Homo sapiens: one gene and its partner. The protein of the gene in region 2 interacts with the protein of the main gene of each other region in a pairwise test. Each region holds a gene or a part of one and is shown on either strand. Other genes may lie near its edges.

Region 1 (7,029 bases), on a different chromosome or scaffold from region 2:
ATATTAAAGGTCTTAGAAGATGAGGAGTAACTCAATCTTTTCCTTTTTCTTTATGAAAAAGACATACTTGAGGGAAACTGAGGTAAGAGAAAAATATGAAATATATTTTTAAACAGGAATTTTTTTTTTTTTTTTTTGAGATAGTCTCCCCCTTGTCACCAGGCTGGAGTGCAATGACGCAATCTTGGCTCACTGCAACCTCCGCCTCCCAGGTTCAAGTGATTCTCCTGCCTCAGCCTCCCGAGTAGCTGGGATTACAGGCGCCTGCCACCACGCCTGGCTAATTTTTGTATTTTTAGTAGAGACGGGATTTTACCATGTTGGCCAGGCTGGTGGTCTTGAACTCCTGACCTCCAGTGATCCACCCACCTTGGCCTCCCAAAGTGTTGGGATTACAGGCATGAGCCACTGCGCCTGGCCACAGGAAGTTTAATGATTGACAAAAGCATACTAATCTTGTATTGGTATGGGAACAAAGAAAATAGTTCTGTCTTTGAACATTAGGGATTCAGGGGGTGACAGCACTCTCTTGGAATCTTGTGTGTTGGAATGCTGAGGTTGGAAGGCAATGGGGAAAGAATATTGCCTGTTCTACAGAGTTCCCTAATTCCATATTGATGATACCTATTGGGAAACTTTAGTTTTTTTAGTAAGTGTAAGAACATTGTGATTATGGTTGTGGATAGTTAACCATTTTCAATGTGTCTGGATTTCTTAATGCATTCAAGAGTTTGTTCATTAATTCAACCCATTATTGATTACCTACCAAGAGACAGGATCTATTCTAAGCTTTGAGGGTATAGCAATAAGCAAGACACATGCTCCCCCTTGGGAGAGTACAGATAATAAGCACATAAATAAAGAACCCAGAATAGTGGTGTTATGAGGAAAATAAACAGGATAATGGCATAGAGAATGATGGGGATTTATGGGGGCTTTTTTAGGTTAGGTGACACTAAGACAGGCTTAGAAGGTGAGATTTGAGCTGCAGAGAGAAAACATTTCCAAGCAACTTCAGGGCAAAACCCTGAGGCAGGAATGAGCTCTTTGTGTCTGAGAATCTAGTGTAAGACTAGTGAGAAAAACTAGTGGGAGAGTGAAGAGGTGGCCTTACCCACCCAGATCATTGGGGGTCTCTAACAGGCAATGGTAAAAATGTTTAGCTTTTTAAAAAAATAAAAATATGCTTATTAAATAATTATATTGTGATTTTGGAACTAAAATAAGTTTGGAAGATTCAGGGCTACTGAGAGGACTGATGTGAGACAAAGGTGAGAAATGTGCAGAGCAGGGTTAGAAGCATAGACTAGCCTGCCTGGAAGAGAGGGTTTCTAGATCACTGACACTTGTCTGTTTAACATTGCTGTTTACGTTATTTATGAGTAAGCCCTGATTTTCATCTGTTAATAAGTTGTAATTTTACTGTTTGCTGTTGTGCCCAGAGCATCTCCATCGCAATGCAGTAACTGAAGTGAGACTAAAACCTCTCACTTGAGGGCCATTTTTCATGGGAAAATACTTGGCTTAGTGGTTGGTTAAGTTAGGCTTTGAGGATATGCGCAGAAAACTCTGGCTAGAAATCGATTTGAGAGCAGTGCAAACATAATTAAGGGTGACTTCGAACTGGTCTCTGGACATGTTCTAAACCAAGGTTAATTAAGACCGAAAATATGTAGATCTGGATTCTGAAAGATACTGAATGCCAAATTAAGGAATTTGGATTTTATCATTCCACTTTAATCCATGCTCTGCTATCCAGTTGCCCTTGCTTTTGGTAATTTATATTATGAAACCAAAATTGTTTTTTTTAATTGTTGTTTCTAAAGTTATTGTTTTTCACCCCTTCTCGAATTAGAGCTTTTGGCTTTGGGAAGACAGCCATTGAAGGTTATTTGAACTGAGGCAAGGCACCGTGAAAGCAGTATTAGAAAATTGGTGACAATATTCAAGATAGGTGGGAAGGAAAAGCAGATGAATTATTTAGAAAGCTATTACAGTAGTTCTGAGAAAGATGAGTAGGGCCTGAACTATTTCATTATTTGTTCATTCAGTGAAAATGGAATAGAAGGGAGGAATATAAGAGTATAAGAAGCACGCTTTCTTTAATTGGCTGTGAATCTGTTTTTATAGTTAGTTTACGAAGAGGCTGTATGAAAGACGAATTGATAGGACTTGGAAACCATGAATGTAAAGACAAAGAAAAGAATATTAGTGCTTATTAAATCAGTTTCAGAGACTGCCAAAATTTAATTGCCATGAAAATTTGTATAAAATTGAATATTGCTCATAAATACAGATTATGGGTTGGGGCTTAAAAATTACTAGTTTTTACTATCATGAAGCCATTTATTATATGATCATTTTTATTGGCGTAGTAGCATGTATTAGAAATTTTAAGATTTTGAGTGACATATGGTTTAAATATTAGGTATCAGTTCTTAATATAAAGTCCAAGTTCCCAGGAAGTGGATGCTTCTAAACACAAGAAAGTCATGCCCTGTCCATTCCCCACTTTCATTTTTGTGATTCTGAATAATTTCTGGTTAAGCCATTTCTTATTTTTAAAAGTTGGGAATAAGTAGTATACTCCTCATGGATATGGTGAATTATGTTTCAGATTGGTTCCTGGGCAACTGAGTGTCAAATTTGTGGTCTTTTTTTTTTTTTTTTTTTTTTTTTAGTGATTTGCAAACTCTCTCAAATCCTTTTTAAAATGAAGTGATGGGTATATGTGGAACCACTGATAAATAACTGCATGGAATAGTGTTTAGAAAACATGCTATTTTAGTGCTATATTATTGTAAACTTAAAGGATTTGCCATGTTATAAAAACATTTCTGAAAAGGAGCATGTTACCTATTGTCCATTAATTGGCTTTGTTTTATGTGTAGTTATTTTCTTTTTAAAAATCTAAAAACCAAAAAACAATGGTCTCACTTTTGTCCAGGCTGGTCTCAAACTTGGGGCCTGAAGCAATCCTCCTGCCTGGACCTCCCAAAGTGCTGGGATTACAGGCATGAGCCACCATGCCTGGCAAGTTTTTTTGTTTGTTTGTTTGTTTGTTTGTTTCTTTTGAGACAGAGTCTTACTCTGTCGCTCAGGCTGGAGTGCAGTGGCATGATTATGGCTCACTATACCCTTGACCTCCTGGGCTTAAGCAGTCCTCCCACTTCAGCCCCCCAGGTAGCTGAGACTACAGGTGCACACCACCATGCTGGCTATTTTTAAAATTTTTTAAAAAAACTTTTATATTTATGTATTTATATTTTGGAGACAGGGTCTTGCTCTTTCACCCAGGCTAAAGTATAGTGGTGCAGTCTTGGCTCACTGCAGCCTCATCTTCTGGGCTCAAGTGATCCTGCCACCTCAGCCTCCCAACTAGCTGGGACCACAGGCACGTACCACCACGCCCGGCTAATTTTTGTGTTTTTCGTGCAGATAGGGTTTCGCCATGTTGCCCAGGCTGGGCTCAAATTCCTGAGGTCAAGCAGTCTTCTCGAAGTGCTGGGTTTACAGGCGTGAGCCACCACACCCAGCCTAAATATATTTTTATTTTTATTTTTATTTTATTTTATTTTTGAGGTGGAGTCTTGCTCTGTAGCCCAGGCTGGAGTGCAGTGGCGCAATCTTGGCTCACTGCAACCTCCACCTCCTAGGTTCCAGCAATTCTCCTGCCTCAGCCTCCCGAGTAGCTGGGACCACAGGCATGTGCCACCACACCTGGCTAATTTTTGTATTCTTAGTAGAGACGGGGTTTCACCATGTTGGCCAGGCTGGTCTTGAACTCCTGACCTCAGGTGACCCACCTGCCTCGGTGTCCCACAATTCTGGGATTACAGGTGTGAGCCACTGCTCCCAGCCTTATTTTTATTTTTTTAAAGATGGGGTCTTACTATGTTGGCCAGGTTGGTCTTGAACTCCTGGGCTCAAGCAGTTCTCCCACCTCGACTTCTGAAAGTGTTGAAATTACAGGTGTGAGCCACTGTGCCCCGCCATTTATTTTCATAATATACCTTCAAGCAACTTATTAGAATAACTTGATTCAAAGCCTCAATTTAATGGTTCCTTTTTAAGGTACTTTGCTAGCCCAGGATAAAAGTATAAACTGAATGGCTATTTCTTGATTCTTCCCTGGAACCCTTAAATAAATAGAAGTAAATGTTGCAGATATACTATACTTATGGTACATTCTTTGAGACTTTTTGTTCCTGTTTCTAAAGGGATCAGGTTCTTCTGAGGATGACAGCACTAGGGATGGGAACTGTAATGGTAAAACCATAGTTCTCAGTAGTGTTTGAATGAATGTGACCTTTGTGGATAGCTAGTGCAGGACATAGGTATGCAAAATGATGAGACCCAGCTTTACTGATGCTAAGATTTTCTCAGACTAATGCCATCATCATCCTTTTTAACCCCAAAGGAGGAGTTGATAATTTCATATTTAAGCTATTGATATTTATGTTTCTTGGAATGATGATCATTGATTTTTAAGTTGCTTTCATCACGTGTTTCCATAATATTCTGTTCTTACCTCTTCATAGTATATATCATTCTATATAAGGTAATGGTATGGTTACTGATTTCTTTCCTCCACCAGACAGTGTACTCCTTGAGGAAAGGTGCTGTGACCTTTTTCTTTGAGGAAAAGGACTGTATGCATTGTGTCTGCATTGCAGTGCCTTAGATGTGATAGGCACTCAGTTTGTTGAATGAGAAAGATGCTGATCTTCATATTCTGTATAGTTCTAGAATTACTATAATATCTTCTCTCAATAAAAATCCCAAATCTTACGAAAGCATTTATTTATTTATGTATACAAGGTAACAATTCCAAACAGTACTACAAGAATACACAGAAAAGTAACTCTTTCTACCTGTTACCCAGATTTCCACAAATTGTCTTCTGTAGATCCACCCTCTGTTAGTAGTTTCTTGAGTATCTGTTTAGAGATAATCTGTGGATAAATATTTATTTATACATGTATATCCTTTTCACTTTATTTTCCACAAAAATAGATGCAGAGGACTCTGGGGATGTACCATATTTTATTTAATCAGTCCCTTATTGATGGTTATTTAGGTTGATACTTAGTTTTTTCTCTTACAAATACTATTTCTGTGAACACTCTTGTATACACTTCTTTGGGAATACATGCCATTATATATGTTGTAGGATAAATCTGTGCAAGTAGAATTACTGCTTCAAAGGATATTTGCATTTAAAATGTTGGTAGCTAATGCCAAAGTGTCATTCAAAGAATGGTTCCAACCTTTATTCCCACCAACCTGTTAAGGTACCTTTTCCCTTATATCTTTACCAACACAGTATATTAGTGAACTAATACATTGTTTAGCAAATTGTTCTTTTAAATTTGAGTCATTTTTCATAGGCTTAGGTGTCAAATTTTTTCTGATCACAGCTTTTGCCTATTCTTTTGGGTTTTTGGTCTCATGTATGTAGATTCACTTAATCTGCATTGTAAGGAAACTAGCCTTTTGTCATATGTCTTGAAAACTTTTTATTGATTTGTTATTTGTATTTTGACCATATGGTATGTTTTTCTGTTTAGAAATTTTTATGTAGTCAGATTTATCATTTTCTTTTATGACTTTGAGTCATAAAAGTGAAAAAAGTCATTGAGTTTTATGTAATCCTTAGAAAATCCTTCTTGAGGATCATAAAAATTTTCCCCCATGTTTACTCCTAGTAAGTACTTTTATACTTTTTATGATTTCATTTTAACATTTAATTATTTGATTTATTTGCAGTTTGTTTTGTTCTAGAGAGTGAAGTAGTGAAATAATTTTATATTTCAAGATTATTTCCCATTTGTTCCAATACCTTTTATTTTGAATTATCCTTCTTAACCACTTTGAAGTACCATTTTTGTCATATTCTTGTAGTATGGGTGAAATATTTCCTCTGCTTTTCCATTTATCTGTCAGTTCACACAGAAGTATCAGACTGTTGTGCTATAATTTTTAAATACTAGCTAAACGGCTTTTCCATAAATATTTTTCTTGGCTATCTTATGTGTGTATAATTTTCTACTTCATCTTAAAATTTTTTTTATCTTGTCCCCTCTCCCTCTGTTGGAGTTTTAGTAGGTTGCATTACATTTATGGATTAATTTTGGGGAGAATTGAAATACATTCGGTGTTGATATTGTGTATTTTTCCATAAACACGTGGTTTTTATTAACATGTATTTAAAAAAAATTTAGCATATAATTAGGTGAACTAGAGACTTTTAAAAATAAATATTCTAGCCTCCTTGTAACATACTGAATTATACAGGTATTTGGCTCTCTCTTTTCAATTGATAATTGACTGAGAAAGAAAGCTAAGTCTTCCTGCTTTTTCATTTCCAAAAAAAAAAAAAAATTGTGTTGAGAAAGAAAGAAATATTCTCTGTACTCTTGTATTAGGAGCTATAGCTGCCAAATACTGGATTTTTTTTTTTTAAAGCAGTCTCTTTACATAGGTGGCCCTCTACTTTTCAAAAATAATTATTTCTTTAATAGCTTGTTTTTCTCATTGATGGAATTGTTACCACAGATACAGAAAGTTTATAAAGTTTTGTTGTTCAAGAGTTTGGAGTTGCTGCTTATATTGGTGGTCTCTTGGAAGTTCAATATTAAGAAAAAAATTAATATATTCCTTTTTTTTTTTAACTAGGCCTAGGGCTGAGTAAGAGGACAAGAAAGATGAATAGAGGTTGTACTTATGAGAGGTATAGGTAGCAGATGAAGGAAAAAATACAGGCCCTTAGTTGTAAAGAATTTTCTGCTCTTAAAACCAGAGGAGTTTTGTGATTGGCCTTACAGGACATATTTACAGATCTGTGAACTGCTTTTGTGGAAAGAGAGAAGCTTACTTAAGGATTCCAGGTCTGCCTACGTGTTCTTTCTCCCCAACTTTGTAGGTTGATTTATAAACTCGCCTAAATGGAAGGTGCCATTATTGAGTTCATTTATCTCAGTGCCCTGACAACCGTAGATGGAGGTGACCTAAAAGTGTTACAACTTT
Region 2 (7,029 bases):
GGGAGGACTACTTGAGTCCAGGAGCTTGAGACCAGCCTGGGCAACATAGTGAGATCTCATCTCTACAAAAAATCAAAAACTTAGCTGGGCATGATGGTGCATGCCTGTGGTCCTGTCCCAGCTATTTGGGAGGCTGAGGTGGGAGGATCGCTTAAGCCTAGGAGTTGGAGGCTGCAGTGAGCCGTGATCGCACCACTGCCCTCTAGCCTGGTGACAGAGCCAGACTCTGTCTCAAAAAATAAATAAAAAAAAATAAAAAAATTAAAAAGGAGAGGAAAAAAAATAGAAAAGCTCCTGCCCAGGCAGCTAGCTGCCCAGCAGGGACTCAGCTGGCACAAGGACAGAGCACTTGGATGCCTGCCACCCAGAGGCCAGGCATAACAGCCCTGTGACACCAACATTGCCTTTCCCTCCCATTCCTTCTTCCCACTCCCCAACCCTGGAGAGGCAGGAGCAGGAACGGGAGGAGGCAGAACAAGAAAAGTGAAAGAGGCAGGGCATTTTGGCTCACGCCCGTAATCTCAGCACTCTGGGAGGCGGAGGCAGGTGGATCACTTGAGTGTCAGGAGTTTGAGACCAGCCTGACCAAAATGGTGCGACCCTGTCTCTACTCAAAATACAAAAATTAGCCAGGCGTGGTGGCGCGCGCCTGTAGTCCCAGCCACTCAGGAGGCTGAGGCAGGAGAATCGCTTGAATCCGGGAGGCGGAGGTGGGAGTGAGCTGAGATCGCGCCACTGCACTCCAGCCTCGGCAATCCAGAGCAAGACTCGATCTCAAAAAAAAAAACGGGCCAAGCGCGGTGGCTCACATCCGTAATCCCAGCACTTTCAGAGGCTGAGGCGGGCGCACCACCTGAGGTCGGGAGTTTGAGACCAGCCTGACCAACATGGAAAAATCCCATCTCGACTAAAAATACAAAATTAGCAGGCACCGTGGTGCGCGCCTGTAGTCGCAGCTACTCAGGAGGCTGAGGCAGGAGAATCGCTTGGACCTGGGAGGTTGCAGTGAGCAGAGATTGCGCCACTGTACTCCAGACTGGGCGACAAAGTGAGACTCTGTCTCAAAAAAAGAAAAAGAATAACAGACATGGACTCTTGCTATATTGCCCAGGCTGGTCTTGAATTCCTGGGCTCAAGCAATCTTCCTGCCTCAGCCTCCCAAAGTGTCGAGATTACAGGTGTGAGCCAATGTGCCAGGCGTTGGCAAATTTTAGAATGAAAAACTCCAGTGTCTCAGAGCTTGGGACTGTCGAGTCCCAGGATCTCACAGCAAGAAGGTGCCCAGGACCCTGACCTCCATTGGGGGGGCCCTTCTACCTCCAGCATCCCCAAATGCCAGTGGCTCCAGGCCCCCAGAGGGATTTCCCTTTGCAGCTGCCCTTTGAGCTGAGAACTCACTCCCATTGACCAGCAGGCCTCTTGCCTTCAGGATCTGCAGCCAGACCCTGGCCAGTCAGGAAATCCCACCAAGAGCTTGCAGGGAAGGAACTAAAATGTCCCAGAGCAGTGTGACCCGGCTCTTTCCAAAGCCTTCTCAGTGAGATGGCCCCAACATGGGAAGTGCCTCCTTTCCTTCCTCGTGGCTATTTGTTGCACAGGTGCATCCAGCACACCACACCACGTGCCCTGGCACAGGGCTTCTAATTCTCATTGAAGCTGCTATTGGCCCACAGGGCAGCACTGCTGAGGAGACGTCTCTCCCTGATCTGCGCAGGCACTGAGCAGGCTAGTGGGGCTCTGCCCTCCTCCCTGTCCCAAGGACGTCCTGCCCTGGCTCCTTCCCGGCTGTCCCAGCTCATTACCTTCCTTGGAGAAGGGGTCGAAGAGGGCAAGCTCAGCCTCGGTGAGGGGGCCTCGGGCAGGGGAACCAGATGCCTCCTCGGTGCTCTCACAGTTAAAGAGGAGATCCAGGGCCTCCTGGGCAGGGCTGGATGGTGGGGGGTCCACTGAGGAAGAGATAAGTGGGGTCATGAATACCTGCGTTTATTTCTCAGCTTTCAAAATAGAATTACTCTCTCCTTAAACCCTTGCAGCAACCATGGGCATAGACAAGCCTGTTATTAGGGTTTGTGCTCATTTTACAGATCAAGAAACTGTAGCACAGAGAAGGAAAAGGACCTGCCCAAAGTTCCTCAGCCAGTTAAGTGATAGACCTGGGACACACACACATTTCTCAGTAAGATCACTGAGGAGGGAGTGTGGCCGCCCTCCCCACTCTGCACCCTCCAGCCCTGGTTCCCTCCTCCCACCCCGATGTACCTGGCACCTCCAATTCCTCGAGGCCCCTCCTTTCTGCAGGGAGCAGTTGGGATAGCCGGGGGTCATCAGGGGGCGGGGTGGGGATCAGAGGGGGTGGCAGGATGTGTAGGTCCCTGGACACCTCCAAGGGTCGGGTCACCTCCCCACCCTGCAGGACAGAAAGATCAGACATGGGGAGTCATGGGGTGCAATCTGGTGGGTGGGTAAGTGGCCCAAGTTCTGGGAAGGTGGAAGGTGCACATACCCGGAAGAACTCCTTGAGCTGGGGGCTGTTGTTGAGCGCAGGTATGTGCACAGTGAAGCGAAGCAGGTCCTCTGCCCCCTTTCGCCGCTCCTCGATCACTGAGGCTTCAAACCGGCCTACGGCCCCCAGGACAAGGAACAGGGGAGAGTGGCGGTGACCCACAGGGGCTTCTGCCCCAAGGCCACTTTTCCTGGTCCTGCCTGAGATGCTCTGAGCAACTCACTGCCCTCCTACCCATTCTCCCAGCAATCTGCCCTGGTTCCTCCTGGGGTGAGGTAGGGGCTTCCAGGAGGGATCAATTTCCCTATTCATTCATTTGCCAGATGTTTACTGAGCACCTACTATATGCTAGACTCAGAAGGTGAACAGGGGAGGAACCAGTCTCTGCCCTTGTGAATATCATATCCTACCCAGGGGGAGCTAGGCAGTTAACAAGAAACAAAAGCATTTCTGATGGCTTTGATCTAATGAGAAAAGTAAGGCTCAGAGAGGGAAAGTGACTTGCCCAAGGTCACAAAGCAAGGAGCCCCCGTTTATTTTTTGAGAAAAGGACTGGCTGTGTTACCCAGGCTGGTGTGCAGTGGCACGATCTCAGCTCACTGCAACCTCTGCCTCCTGGGATCAAGCCGCCCTCCCGCCTCAGCCTCCCAAGTAGCTGGGACTATAGGTGCACACAATCATGCCTGGCTAATTTTTGTATTTTTTGTAGAGATGGGGTTTTACCATGTTGCCCAGGCTGGTCTTGAACTCCTGAGCTCAAGTGATTACCTTGCCTTGGCTTCCCAAAGCACTGAGATTACAGGTGCGAGCCACAGTTTCACTGCTCTGTCCTAGGTATTTTGCAGAGCAGGCTAACTCTGGTCCAGTTACTGTGCGGCCAGTCTGTGGTACTTCCCCACTGGCCTGGCATAACCTGACAGCAGCAATCCTTTACCTTGCTTCAAAAGAACATCTCGGCCAGGTGCGGTGGCTCACACCTATAATCCCAGCGTTTTAGGAGGCCGAGGCAGGTGGATCACTTGAGGTTAGGAGTTCGAGACCAGCCTGGCCAACATGGTGAAACCCTGTCTCTACTAAAAATAAAAAAAAATTAGGTGTGGTGGCGCACACTACTTGGGTGGCTACTTGGCTATTTGGGAGGCTGAGGCAGGAGAATCGCTCAAACCTGGGAGGCAGAGTTTGCAGTGAGCTGATATCATGCCACTGGACTCCAGCCTGGGTGACAGAGTGAGACTCTGTCTCAAAAAACAAAAACAAAAACCAATAACAAAAAAGAACATCTCACATGAGTATGCAGACCCAAGCAACTGGTCAGCACTGTCTAATACAGATATGAGCTACATATGCAATTTTAAATTTTCTAGCAGCTAGATTAAATAATAGGAAAAAAGAAACAATTTTTTTTTTTTTTTTTTTTTTGAGACGGAGTCTCACTCTGTCGCCTGGGCTGGAGTGCAATGGCACACTCTTGGCTCACTGCAACCTCTGCCTCCCAGGTTCAAGCGATTCTCCTTCCTCAGCTTCCTGAGTAGCTGAGATTACAAGCACTTGCCACTACACTCAGCTAATTATTTGTATTTTTAGTAGGGACGGGGTTTCACCACGTTGGCCAGGCTGGTCTCAAACTCCTGATCTCGTGATTCGCTTGCCTCGGCCTCCCAAAGTGCTGGGATTACAGGTGTGAGCCATCACACCTAGCCACAAGTTAATTTTAATATTTTATTTAACCCAATATATCCCAAATATTCTCATTGCAACATGTAATCAATATACTAAGTATTGAGATGGGCCGGGTGCAGTGTCTCACGCCTGTAATCCCAGCACTTTGGGAAGCCAAGGCGGGCAGGTCAGCTGAGGTCAGGAGTTCAAGACCAGCCTGGCCAATATGATGAAACTCTGTCTCTACTAAAAATACAAAAATTAGCCAGGCGTGGTGGTGCACACCTGTTATCCCAGCTACTGGGGAGACTGATGCAAGAGAATCCCTTGAACCTGGAAGGTGGAGGTTGCAGTGAGCCAAGACAGCGCCACTGTACTCCAGCCTGGGTGACAAAGTGAGGCTGTCAACAACAACAAAAAAGAAAAAGGAAAATAAAATGGAGCTGATAAAGACAGGATTTTTTTTCCTTTGAGATGGAGTTTTGCCTTGGCCTCCCAAAGTGCTAGGATTACAGGCGTGAGCCACACGCCTGGCCCAACAGGAATGTTAAAAGGTGAAATACACAGTAAGGGTTAGGCTACTCTGAGCCTCAGTTTCCCCATCTGTCAAATGAGGTCATCTCTAAGGGCCCTTCCAAACATGACTCTGCCCAGGGTTTCAGGCCCTCTCTATCCAGCCCCCACTGGCGGAGGTCCCCTTTTGCCCAATGCTCCCTCCATCTTTGGCCCGAGTGCCCCAATCTAACACTCACCAAACACCTGGGCCCGGGGGAAAGCAGGGAACTCCTCGAGGCGGCGGAAGAGGTTGCGGTGGGTGTAGGCCAGGTCTCCATGCAGCTTGCGGAAGTCGCTGTACCGCTTCCAGACCACCACCTATGAGGTACATGAGACTTGCCCAGAACCAGCAATGGTGGGAGGCAGCCGCCCCCATGCCTAGCCTGCCCCCAGGGGGCGTGAGGATCAGGAAGCAGCTGCAGCAGCCCCTCGCCCAGGGACAGGGAGGAAGGAGGGCCGATGTCCAAGCAGAGTTACCAGCTGCCCCTTGACAGTTTCCAGATCTGGAACTGCAGAACAGTCCCTCTTCCTCCCAGGAGCCTCACCTCTTTGACATCCTCTGGGTCCTTCTTTGAGATGAACTGAGAAAGAAAGGCAAGAGCTGGTTGAGACCAGAGACTGCCATCTGACACCCTCTCACCCTGTAATGCCCCAGGTGCCTCCTAGTCCCCCTCACGGGGCAGTAGCCTTTGGCCATTGGCCTCTGGCATCAAGGCACCCTGGCTTTAAGCCTTCGCGTGTAATTTTAGCAACTTTTCCTACTATGTACCTCAGTTTCTCCATCTATCAAATAGGAGGACCCCTAAAGGCCCATTTGGACTGCTCCAACCTCAGCCCAACTTTTTTTTTTTTGAGATGGAGTCTCGCTCTGTCGCCCAGGCTGGAGTGCAGTGGTACACTCTCGGCTCACTGCCACCTCTGCCTTCAGGGTTCAAGCGATTTTCCTACCTCAGCCTCCCAAGAAGCTACAGACATGCACCACCACGCTTGCTAATGTTTGTATTTTTAGTAGAGATGGGGTTTCCCCATGTTGGCCAAGCTGGTCTGGAACTCATGACCTCAAGTGATCCGCCCGCCTCAGCCTCCCAAAGTGCTGGGATTACAGGCGTGAGCACCCGGCCATCAGCCCAATTTTTATCCCAGTTCCTTGAACAGACCAAGTCCCTCCATCTACTTCTGAAACCAAAGAACCCCAAGCCTCCAAAGAAGGGAGGTTCTGCCTCAGGAACCTCCTTCCCTGCGGGAGAAGATCCTGCGCTTCAGCGCCCTGGACACAGAAGAAACCATCACTGGAGTTGAAGTCCCTGGAAGGGCAGACTTGGGTCTGAGGTGAAAACAAGATTCAGTTTTCATCGTTATGTTCATAATAATTTTAAAATAATGTCCTATGGTTTGGGGTACTTGACAGTTTAATAACATCTCCTATGCCAGGCACGGTGGCTCACACCTGTAATGCCAGCACTTTAGGGGGCCCAGGTGGGCAGAGCACTTAAGTCCAGGAGTTTGAGGCCAGCCTGGGCAACATAGTGACACCCAGTATCTGCAAAAAATACAAAAAATTAGCTGGGTGTGGTGGCGTGACACACCTGTAGTCCCAGCTACTTAGAAGGCTGAGGTGGGAGGATCACTTGAGCATGTTAAGCAGAGGTTGCAGTGAGCTGAGATTGCACCACTGCACTCCAGCCTGGAGAGAGTGAGACCCTGTCTCTCACACACTAAATAAATAAATAAAAACATCTATTTCTTATCCTAGATCCCACTGAGGCAGACATAATTGACATGCCCACTTAAGAGATGAGGAAATGGAGGCTCTGAGAGGTGTGGCCATAGTAGACCACACACTAAGTAAGAAAGATGGCTGGGACTAAAACCCTGGACTTTGCTTTTGACAACAGAGACTTGCCTAAAATATTCTGGTAAAAGAAACTATTTAAAAGCCATTGAGTGGCCAGGTGTGGTGTCTCATGCCTGTAATCCCAGCACTTTGGGAGGCCGAGGTGGGAGAATCACTTGAGGTCAGGAGTTCGAGACCAGCCTGGCCAACCAACATGGTGAAATCCTGTCTCTACTAAAAATACAAAAATTAGCCAGGCGTGGTGGCAAGTGCCTGTAGTCCCAGCTACTCAGGAGGCTGAGGCAGGAGAATCACTTGAACCCAGGAGGCAGAGGTTGCAGTGAGCTGAGATCATGCCACTGCACTCCAGCCTGGCAACACAGTGAGACTCCATCTCAAAAAAAAAAAAAAAATTATAGGCCAGGTACGGTGGGTCATGGTGGCCTGTAATCCTAACACTTTGGAAGGCCAAAATGGG

The links. Proteins that work in one complex are often made in the same cells at the same time.
Region 1: the proteins of SNX15 (region 2) and RTN4 interact in binary tests that used the Homo sapiens proteins (3 or more experiments, as listed by UniProt).

The regions. Positions count from the first base shown.
Region 1 is NC_000002.12:55,040,436-55,047,464, reverse strand, and holds part of RTN4 (reticulon-4), read left to right. Parts: intron 1-138; exon of another isoform or gene 139-649; intron 650-7,029. UniProt on the Homo sapiens protein: Required to induce the formation and stabilization of endoplasmic reticulum (ER) tubules. They regulate membrane morphogenesis in the ER by promoting tubular ER production.
Region 2 is NC_000011.10:65,030,437-65,037,465, reverse strand, and holds part of SNX15 (sorting nexin-15), read right to left. Parts: intron 5,299-7,029; coding exon 5,263-5,298; intron 5,036-5,262; coding exon 4,915-5,035; intron 2,620-4,914; coding exon 2,504-2,619; intron 2,408-2,503; coding exon 2,260-2,407; intron 1,947-2,259; coding exon 1,803-1,946; intron 1-1,802. UniProt on the Homo sapiens protein: May be involved in several stages of intracellular trafficking. Overexpression of SNX15 disrupts the normal trafficking of proteins from the plasma membrane to recycling endosomes or the TGN.